Regions from separate parts of the Homo sapiens genome. Here region 2 is linked to region 1. Evidence: fine-mapped expression QTL. A gene starts in region 1. The other region holds a variant in brackets. All regions are shown on one strand. Distances are from middle to middle.

Region 1 (4,388 bases):
CTGGGGAAAGTCCCTATCTCTCTGAGCTTCAGTCTATTCATCCACAATATGGAGATAATAAGGCCCATCCCAAAAGGCTGTTACAAGAATTATATTCAATGTGAGTGTGTTTGTGAAGCTCCTGGCACATGGTGGGTGCTCATCAATAATAACCAAGCTTCTGATAGTAATATAAATATAACTGAATCTTGCCAAGCTCGCGAAGTTCTGGAATGAATGAGACTTTCAAGACCAGGTATGGTGGTTCATGCCTGTAATCCCAGCTCCTTGAGGGCCCGAGGCAGGCAGATCGTTTAAGGTCAGAAGTTCGAGACCAGCCTGGCTAACATGGTAAAACCCTGTCTCTACTAAAAATACAAAAAAATTATCTGGGCATGGTGGCAGGTGCCTGTAATACTGGCTACTTGAGAGGCTGAGGCAAAAGAATCACTTAAACCCTGGAGGCAGAGGTTGCAGTGAGCTGGGATCGCGCCACTGCAGTTCCGCCTGGGCTACAGAGCAGGACTCCGTCCCCTCCTCCCTGCCAGAGAAAGACTGTGTCTTCTAATACTTTTATTTTACAGATAAGGAAGTGAGCACCCAGAATGGGAAAGGGACTTCCCAGTATTTCACTGAAATTTAATGACCGAATCAGGTCTAGAACCAAAGTGGGCTCACTTCCCATCCCACAACACGAGGCTGTTATAGGTGAAGCCAAGTCATTGCTCCTTCAGGGCCACTGCCAATACATGACTCAGAGGGACTCTCGACTCCTCAAGGCCCCAAGGCACAAGGGCCCTGGTCTCAGGGTTGCTCTGAGCCAGCTGGCAGGCAAGAAGTGGCCACCAAGAGGGAGGGCACGGGTCCCCTTGAGCTGTCCTCTGAACCTTGAGAGTTACACTGCCTGAGACTTTTTAGATAGTGAGATACTGAGATTTCCACAAGATTGTCAGATCCACTGTCTCATTGGTTCCTCACAACAGACTGGTGTTACAAGTCAAGCAGTGAGAGAAGGAATGAAATCACTGGTCTCTCTGCCCACAGTGTTTGGCACAGTAAGAGGCCTGTGTTTGCTGAATGACTGTGTGAAGAAGTGACTTGTCAAACCTGGTCTCCATGCTAACCCTTTGGTTTCCTCTCCCAGGCAGGATGTGGTGACACCACTCATCACAGGGTCCTGGGTGCCAATGGCCTCTGCCACTGACTTGGGCAAGTCACGCTGAGTCCCCATTGGTAACACTGAGATAGCCTTGCATATAGCTGGTGTTCAATAAATGTTTGATGGGCTGGGCTCGGTGGCTCACGTCTGTAATCCCAGCATTTTGGGAGGCCGAGGTGGGTGGATCACCTGAGGTTAGGAGTTCAAGACCAGCCTGAGCAACAGGGTGATACCCCGTCTCTACTGAAAATACAAAAAATTAGCCAGATGTGGTGGCACATGCCTGTAGTTCCAGCTACTTGAGAGGCTGAGGTAGGAGAATTGCTGGAACCCAGGAGACGGAGGTTGCAGTGAGCTGAGATCATGCCACTACACTTCAGCCTGGGAGACAGAGCAAGACTCCGTCTCAAAAATAAATGAATAAAAATAAATACATGTTTGACTAAATAAACATCAAATCTCTACTTCACCAACCAAGTCTCCACTTTACCAATTACTAGCTGTGTGACTTTGGACTAGTTAATTCCCTGGGCCTCAAGTTTTCCATCAGTAAAGTGGAAATACTAATATATTCTATGTGTGTTTTAAAGTCAAAGAGTGTCTATGCTGGGTGCGGCAGCTCACGCCTGTAATTCCAGCACTTTGGGAGGTCGAGCTGGGTGGATCACCTGAGGTCAGGAGTTCAAGACCAGCCTGGCCAACATGGTAAAACCCCATCTTTACTAAAAAAATACAAAAAAAAAAAATTAGCCGGGCGTGGTGGTGCACACCTGTAATCCCAGCTACTCGGGAGGCTGAGGCAGGAGAATTACTTGAACGTGGGAGCCGAAGGTTGCAGTGAGCCGAGATGGTGCCACTGCACTCCAGCCTGGGAGACAGAGTGAGACTCTGTCTCAAAAATAAAATAAAATAAAATAAAATAAAATAAAATAAAATAAAATAAAATAAAATAAAATAAAATAAAAAAGTTAAAGAGTGTCTTAGTTCTTATTATCCTCAGAGCCTGGGAGAAAGCAGTTGCTCAACAAATGTGTGAATGAATGAATGAGTGAGTGAGTGAATGAATGGATGAAATCCTGTCCCATTCTACTTTAGGGTTCCTGGCCCAGAGCTGGCTGTGACAAACCAACCCCGAGGAAGGGATACCCAGGAGCTCACTCACCAAGGAGCTTCATGAACTCATCATAATTCTTCTCACTCTCCATCTCGAACTTGCCGGTGAAAGCCATGCTGCTGGGAGGCTGGAGGCCAGAGAGCAGAGGGATGAGGAGAATGGGTGGTGCTGAGGGGTCTGCTATCCCAGCTTATAAACTCTCCCAGTTGCTGAGGCTCAGCCCCTAAGTCACCCCACTTCTTCTCCCTCCTGTCCTGAAGAGGAAGCACTTGCTGTTTTATGATGTGGGCAGGACCTGGAGGGACAGAGCCCCGAGGTTATTCACCCTGGGGAAGTGCTGTCACCCCATTGCCAGCAGGGTCAGGATGGCAACGGGTTTGAGGAGTCATCACCTCTCTGCCCATCTCTCCCTCCGTTCCCGCATGCCCTGCCCTCAACCCATGCTCTCACCATCTCTCATCACTCTTGCACCCTCTAACTCTGCAGCCAAAGCACTTGAGCACTTGCTGCATGCAGGGCCAGCACTGAAGAAACACAGATGAACGAGACACACACCTTTCCCAAAAGAGCCTTTGGTTTAGTCCAGAGACAAGCACACACCTGCAGAGAGTTCTTGTGTAAGCAGGATGTGATGTGCCCCAGGAGAAAAGCAGATGGCTGACCTGGAGCATGGGGAAGGAGCAATGGTGTCCAGCGCAGGGCTAGTGCATGTTTGGGGAGGAGGTGGCATTTGGCACCCGTCTTGGAGGACCAATAGGACTTGGATGTGTAGAGAAGCAGGAAGGTTGGAGGAGGCTGAGAACAAAGGGAGACGATATTCTAGGACGAGGGAACAGTGTGACGAAGATGGAAAGGGCCATGATGAAAGGAAACAATGAGTTTAGCTGGAGCAAAGCAAACTTGAAGGAGAACAGATGCTCCTAAGGGTGCAGATAATGCAACCAGAGTAAAGCAGCCACCCATGGGCCTAGGCAGCGCACCTGGAGGAGAAGGTGCCAGGTGCCTTGAAGATGCCTGTGCACCAGGCACTGGGCTGGATGCTGGATGAGTTTTATTTTGTTCAAGCTTCAGAGCTGGAAGGGGTTAGGGGTTCAGAATCTTGACTTCCATTTCCTGCTGTGTCTCTCAGTACCACTTCACATGCAGGGACTCTATCTCCTCCGTGATCACTCCGGCCTACCCATCTTGTGAGAATGTCCTCTGCATTGGGCAAAATTGACAGTGCAAAGTATAAAACACTCTGCAAAGGCTCTCGTGATTATTATGTATTTATTTATTTTTGAGATGGAGTTTCACTCTTGTTTCCCAGGCTGGAGTGCAAAGGTGTGATCTCGGCTCACTGCAACCTCCGCCTCCCGGGTTCAAGCAATTCTCCTGCCTCAGCCTCCAGAGTAGCTGGGATTACAGGCATGCACCACCACACCCAGCTAATTTTGTATTTTTAGTAGAGACGGGGTTTCTCCACGTTGCTTAGGCTGGTCTCAAACTCCCAACCTCAAGTGATCCGCCTGCCTCAGCCTCCCAAAGTGCTGGGATTACAGACGTGAGCCACCACACCCGGCCAATTATTATTATTAATTCAGGAAACCTCTGCACGTCTATTTCCTTTTCCCAGGCTTGCTCTCCATGAATCTCCTTCATTTCCATCTAAAGCTGAATTCAATACAGTTGCTGACTCCCAGACCTGGGACTAAGCGGTCTCTGAACTGATGAAAAACCAACTCTGCCACATTTTACCAGGCTTTAATCTCCAATCTTGGAATTTCTAACTCCAGCCAGGACTCTTACTTTAGTCTAACAGGCAGACAGACAGACAGACAGACACACACACACACACACACACACACACACACGTCATGGATTTTTTTAAGTTATATATATAAAAATTTCAAATAATTCAGAGCAAGTGAGAGTCCTGTCAGAGGTGGCCTGTGATAGTAGTTTGGTACCTCTCCTTCTAGGCTTTTTCTTTCCTTTTCTTTTTTCCTGAGACAGGGTCTCTCTTTGTCGCCCAGGCTGGAGTGCCGTGTGTGATCTCAGCTCACTGCAGCCTTAACCTCCCAGGCTCCAGTGATCCTCCCAAATCAGCCTCCCAAACAGCTGGGACTACAAGTACATGCCACCATGCCTTTTTTT
Region 2 (4,388 bases), 23 kb before region 1:
TTTGTGTTTTTGAGAAGGTCCCCAAAGCCTGGTCTGAGTGTCGGTGCATGCCTTACATAAGCCTCTAATTGTTTTGTTTTCCCAAAAAGCTATATGGGAAGCTTTTTTTGAGATGGCAAAAATCTCTGTTCCAGCCCCCTTTTCAGATGAAAAATCCTAGGCCCCAGCGGTCAATTTGGTTGATATCAGCTAGCTAAGGAGTGACCCCGCTGGGGATGGAGCTGGCCCAGAATTGCCTGGAAAGCAGAGATTGGGCTCATTCAGGCCCCAGGAACACTCCAGTGCCAGGGGATGGGAAGGCATTGGTGAGCACAAGCAGGCGCCATCCTCCTGGAAGCCAGGTAACTAGAAGTTACCCTCTGGAGCAGGTTACTCTCTGGGGTATTGACTGTGGAGATAGGGCAGCATGGGGCTGTGGGGACAGCCAGCCTAGTCTGGAGGGGCCAGAAGAAATTTTCTGTAGGAAGCAGATCCAAGCTGAGAGCCAAGGCCTGAATCTAGTTTGTGAACAGCTGGAGCGGTGCCACACACAGTGAGCACAGCCAGGTAAGGCCTGGTGGACACAGGACACACGCATCTCTTCCAGTCCCACTTAGCAAGACAGGTAGAGACACACACAGGCATCTGGTGGCTTTTGGCCTCCAGTTCTCACCCAGGTCTTCTCGTTTCAGAGTGTATGACAACGTCCTCAAGGATGCCGTAGCCGTCAAGAGCCAGGCCTTGGCAATGGTGCCCGGCACACCCCCCACCCCCACTCAAGTGCTGTTCCAGCCACCAGCCTACCCGGCCCTCGGCCAGCCAGCGACCACCCTGGCACAGTTCCAGACCCCCGTGCAGGACCTATGCTTGGCCTATCGGGACTCCTTGCAGGCCCACCGTTCAGGGAGCCTGCTCTCGGGGAGTACAGGCTCATCCCTCCACACCCCGTACCAACCGCTGCAGCCCTTGGATATGTGTCCCGTGCCCGTCCCTGCATCCCTTAGCATGCATATGGCCATTGCAGCTGAGCCCAGGCACTGCCTCGCCACCACCTATGGAAGCAGCTACTTCAGTGGGAGCCACATGTTCCCCACCGGCTGCTTTGACAGATAGGCCACCTCCAGACCTCACGAGGAAGCCTTGGAGATGTGGGCAGAGGAAGAGGACACTGAAGAGGAGAGCTCAGCCAAGTGAGGCAGCAGGAGGCCATCCCTGAAGAGCCTTGGAACGTGGAGGGTCTGTGCTCCTTTTAAATAAAACTGACCCAGAGCAAAACATTCAATAACATACCTCACCCGAGAGCATTCCTCTGAGAAACGTCTGCCACGTGTGGCTAGGGTACAAAAGGATGGCTTGGTGGCCGTCCCCCCACACAGGGGCCCAGTGAATCGAGAAAGACTTGATAAGAGGCCAGGAGAGTGGGAACTGGACACAGACCACTGATCTCAAGCATGTCCAGTTTTTAGCATTAAAGACTTTTCTATTCTTTGCTGATGGCAGCTACACCGCTGAAAAAGGAGGGGCAGCCTGGCGTGTTCTCAGGACCCCCGGAGGATCCCATATTGGGTGCTTTTCTTTCCCTGGCTCTATGCAGAGGGGCCTGAGTTGGTGTGTATGCCTGAGTGTTTGCCTTGCGAGGCACAGTGGGTGGCTGTCTTGCCTTTGTTTTCGAACCTAAAACCATTTTCAGCCTTTTAGATATGTCATGTGCTGCTGCTTCCCGAAGTGGTCTTGCTTTCTGTTTCGTAAGATGTCTTGTTTACACACTGTATCAGGGATTTGGTGATACTTGAAAATTCCTTTGGAGAAAAAAACAAATTTAATTGCCACACTGCCTGTCCCACATGAGGGCTGTTAATTT[G/A]GAACCCAAGTTTGAACCCAACTTGTGATGGACCCGCAGGTAACCACAGAGCTTCCTTTTTGAAGGCATATGGTTGGAGAGAACCATTTTCCCAGCTCTCGGTTCCGGAAGATTCCACGTCTTGGAGGCTGTGTTCACCACTAGAACTTTAATAACTACCCAGGGAGGGAGAAGCTCGTTGAAAGGAAGACAAAGATTTAAACAGTTCCCACCTCTCTCCACCACATACTTACAGGGCATGAGTTTAACCCAGTCTAGGCTTTGAGTGTGGCTGATAGCGAAGGATAGCAATGTGGAAAATTTGCTTAGTCCCACCTGTATTTGGGGAGTGGGATGTACATGGGCGTTTGATACCACCATTGATAGGCAAGCGACTGGTTGGATCAAAAGCCAGTATTTAGGGATCTGCAGCGAGAGGGCCCTCAGGAAGACTCTTGTAACCATGTGCAATATGTTTTTATTCTGACTCGCAGCTTGTGCTCAGCATGTTCTTTGGTTTAGTTTGGGGTTGGGGGACACATTGTTCACCCAGCAGAACTGGGAGGTGCAAAGGACCGTGGAAGCAATTTTTGTTTTGTTTGAGGAATACCTGTCTTGGATTCCTTAGCCCCTTGCCAGTCCTGGAGACTGTGGCAGGGGCCGCCAGGAAGGCAGCTGTCTGCTGCTGAGTCAGATCGGAAGGTGGTGAATCTTTCCAGAGCAGCTGAAAATCTCAGCATGGAGACAGTAAGAAAAGAGACGGGGTGTGGATAAGACTCTGCCACCGTGTCACACTAGCATAGGAGGCTGCACGTTCATTTGTTGTTGTTTTTTTTTCCTTTGCCAACCTCCGTTCTATTTATGTGCAAGCAGTTTGGATTCAAGTTCTTGTATCTGTCTGTTCTGGGACCTGGGGATTGTGAGGGTTCCCTCACAGCCAGCACGACCCCCAGAAAGAGGCGTCCCACAATAAACACGTCACCTGCTCTTGATCTCTCACCTCTTGTCCTAGGCATCCCCTCTTGGGCCGGCCCCTCCTTCCCTCTCTCAAATCAGCCCTGGTGAGCATCTCCCTATGGTAGAGGGTGGAATATTGGGGGCAGCAGCAAGACCTCGGGAGCTGAGTCCTGCCCTCTGAGTAGGAGCTGGGCCTCCCTGGGCACACAGAGGCCAGCGGAGGGGTGTATAAGGCTTGACACCCCAGCTCCATCACCGTCTCAGGGTTTTTCCAAAGAAACCAGTAGGATATATATGGAGAGAGATTTATTTTAAGGAATTGGCTCATGTGATTGCAGAGGCTGTGGTCTAAAATTTGTGGGGCATGTCAGCAGGCTGGAAATTCAGGTAAGAGCTGATGTTGCAGTAGAGTTCAAAATCTGTAGGGCAGGCCCACAGGCTGGAAACTCAGGCATGATTTCTGTGTTAGCAGTCGTGAGGCAAAATTTATTCTCCAGGAAACCTCAATCTTTGCTCTTACGACCTTTTACCAGTTGGATGAGGCCCACCCACATTATGGAGGCTTTTCTTAAAGTCAACTGATTGTAAATGTTAATCACATCTAAAAATACCTTGACAGCAACATCTAGACTAGTACCTAGCCACACAACAGGCACTGTAGCCTAGCCAAGCTGCCACATAAACTTAATGATCACACCACTTACCAGCTGTTGGAAGGCAGTTGACCCAACCTCTCTCTGAGCCTCCATCTTGTCACCTGTTAAAATGGGAGTGATAACACCTTGCCTCATAGGGTTCTTAAGAGGATTAAATAACATAATGTACATCAAGGCCAGTACCTCCAAAAAAGGAGATAATTATTATATTTCTTCAAGCATAAGATCAGCTTTTTGTAAGATGCACTATTATTTTATGCACTAATAAGACTTTTTAGAAAACTAAATCATGAGGCAGTTTGCAAGATACCATTGATTATATGTTGCATTCTGATTTCAGAAGCGTTACATGTCAAAATATGTATATGTAGAATTGATGAGATATAGCATCAGCTGTTATGAAAAATGTCAGATTCGTACTCCTCCTTGAAGGGAGTCTCACTCAAGACTTCTGTCTTGCCCTCTACCTACCCAGCTTCCAGCAGGAGAACCACCCCAGAGAGCCGGTGTCACTGTGGGGCTGAGACATTTGCTAAGTGCAGATGCCTTTGATTAGACAATTAGGGGAGGAATGGGAAGATGAGCTCAGGGCCTGAGGCTGCAGCCCAGACCCAGGAGTGTGTTTGACACCGCCAAGGGCGGGGCTGAGGGCAGTGCTCACCACCCGCTGTGTGCAAGGCTAGGTGAGGCAGGAAGCTCTAAGTTTTGGGGATTCAGAGACAAGGCAAGTCTTGGGTTGACCAAGAGCACCCACCTCACTTTGGACAAATCCCTCCCTCTTTGGGCTTCCATTTCTCCATCTGTTACTATGGAGATGGTCAAGTTGGTGGATGGTTCTAAGCTCTTGGGGCGGGGGGAGACTGTGCCACAGAGGCTGTGACCTCTGTGGCCTTCAGCCAGAGGGATCCACTTGTATTTCTTCCACCCTTGGGCACTCCCATGTAAGATTGTGTTAA

Which allele goes with the higher level. Positions count from the first base shown, and alleles are read on the strand shown. Sizes are in standard deviations (SD) of each study's normalised expression.
As copies of G replace A in region 2, the expression in cerebellum of the gene that starts at base 2,419 in region 1 goes down (moderate effect, 0.47 SD a copy in GTEx).

What was found. PIP is the estimated chance that this variant, and not a neighbour inherited with it, causes the effect. A credible set is the group of variants that fine-mapping cannot tell apart.
Region 2: its variant is the best candidate, but not a certain one, in a credible set for the expression of FABP6 in cerebellum (GTEx, PIP 0.51).

Annotation. Positions count from the first base shown.
Region 1 is chr5:160,227,537-160,231,924 of GRCh38, reverse strand. It overlaps FABP6 (fatty acid binding protein 6), which reads right to left and starts at 2,419. Exons shown (of 4, transcript NM_001445.3): 1 at 2,301-2,419. The coding sequence starts at 2,367.
Region 2 is chr5:160,250,082-160,254,469 of GRCh38, reverse strand. It overlaps CCNJL (cyclin J like), which reads left to right. Exons shown (of 6, transcript NM_001308173.3): 6 at 672-4,388. The coding sequence ends at 1,092. Among named protein-coding and RNA genes, the nearest start is that of FABP6, 23 kb to the right of the region's middle. The variant G/A (reference allele first, on the strand shown) is at 1,841.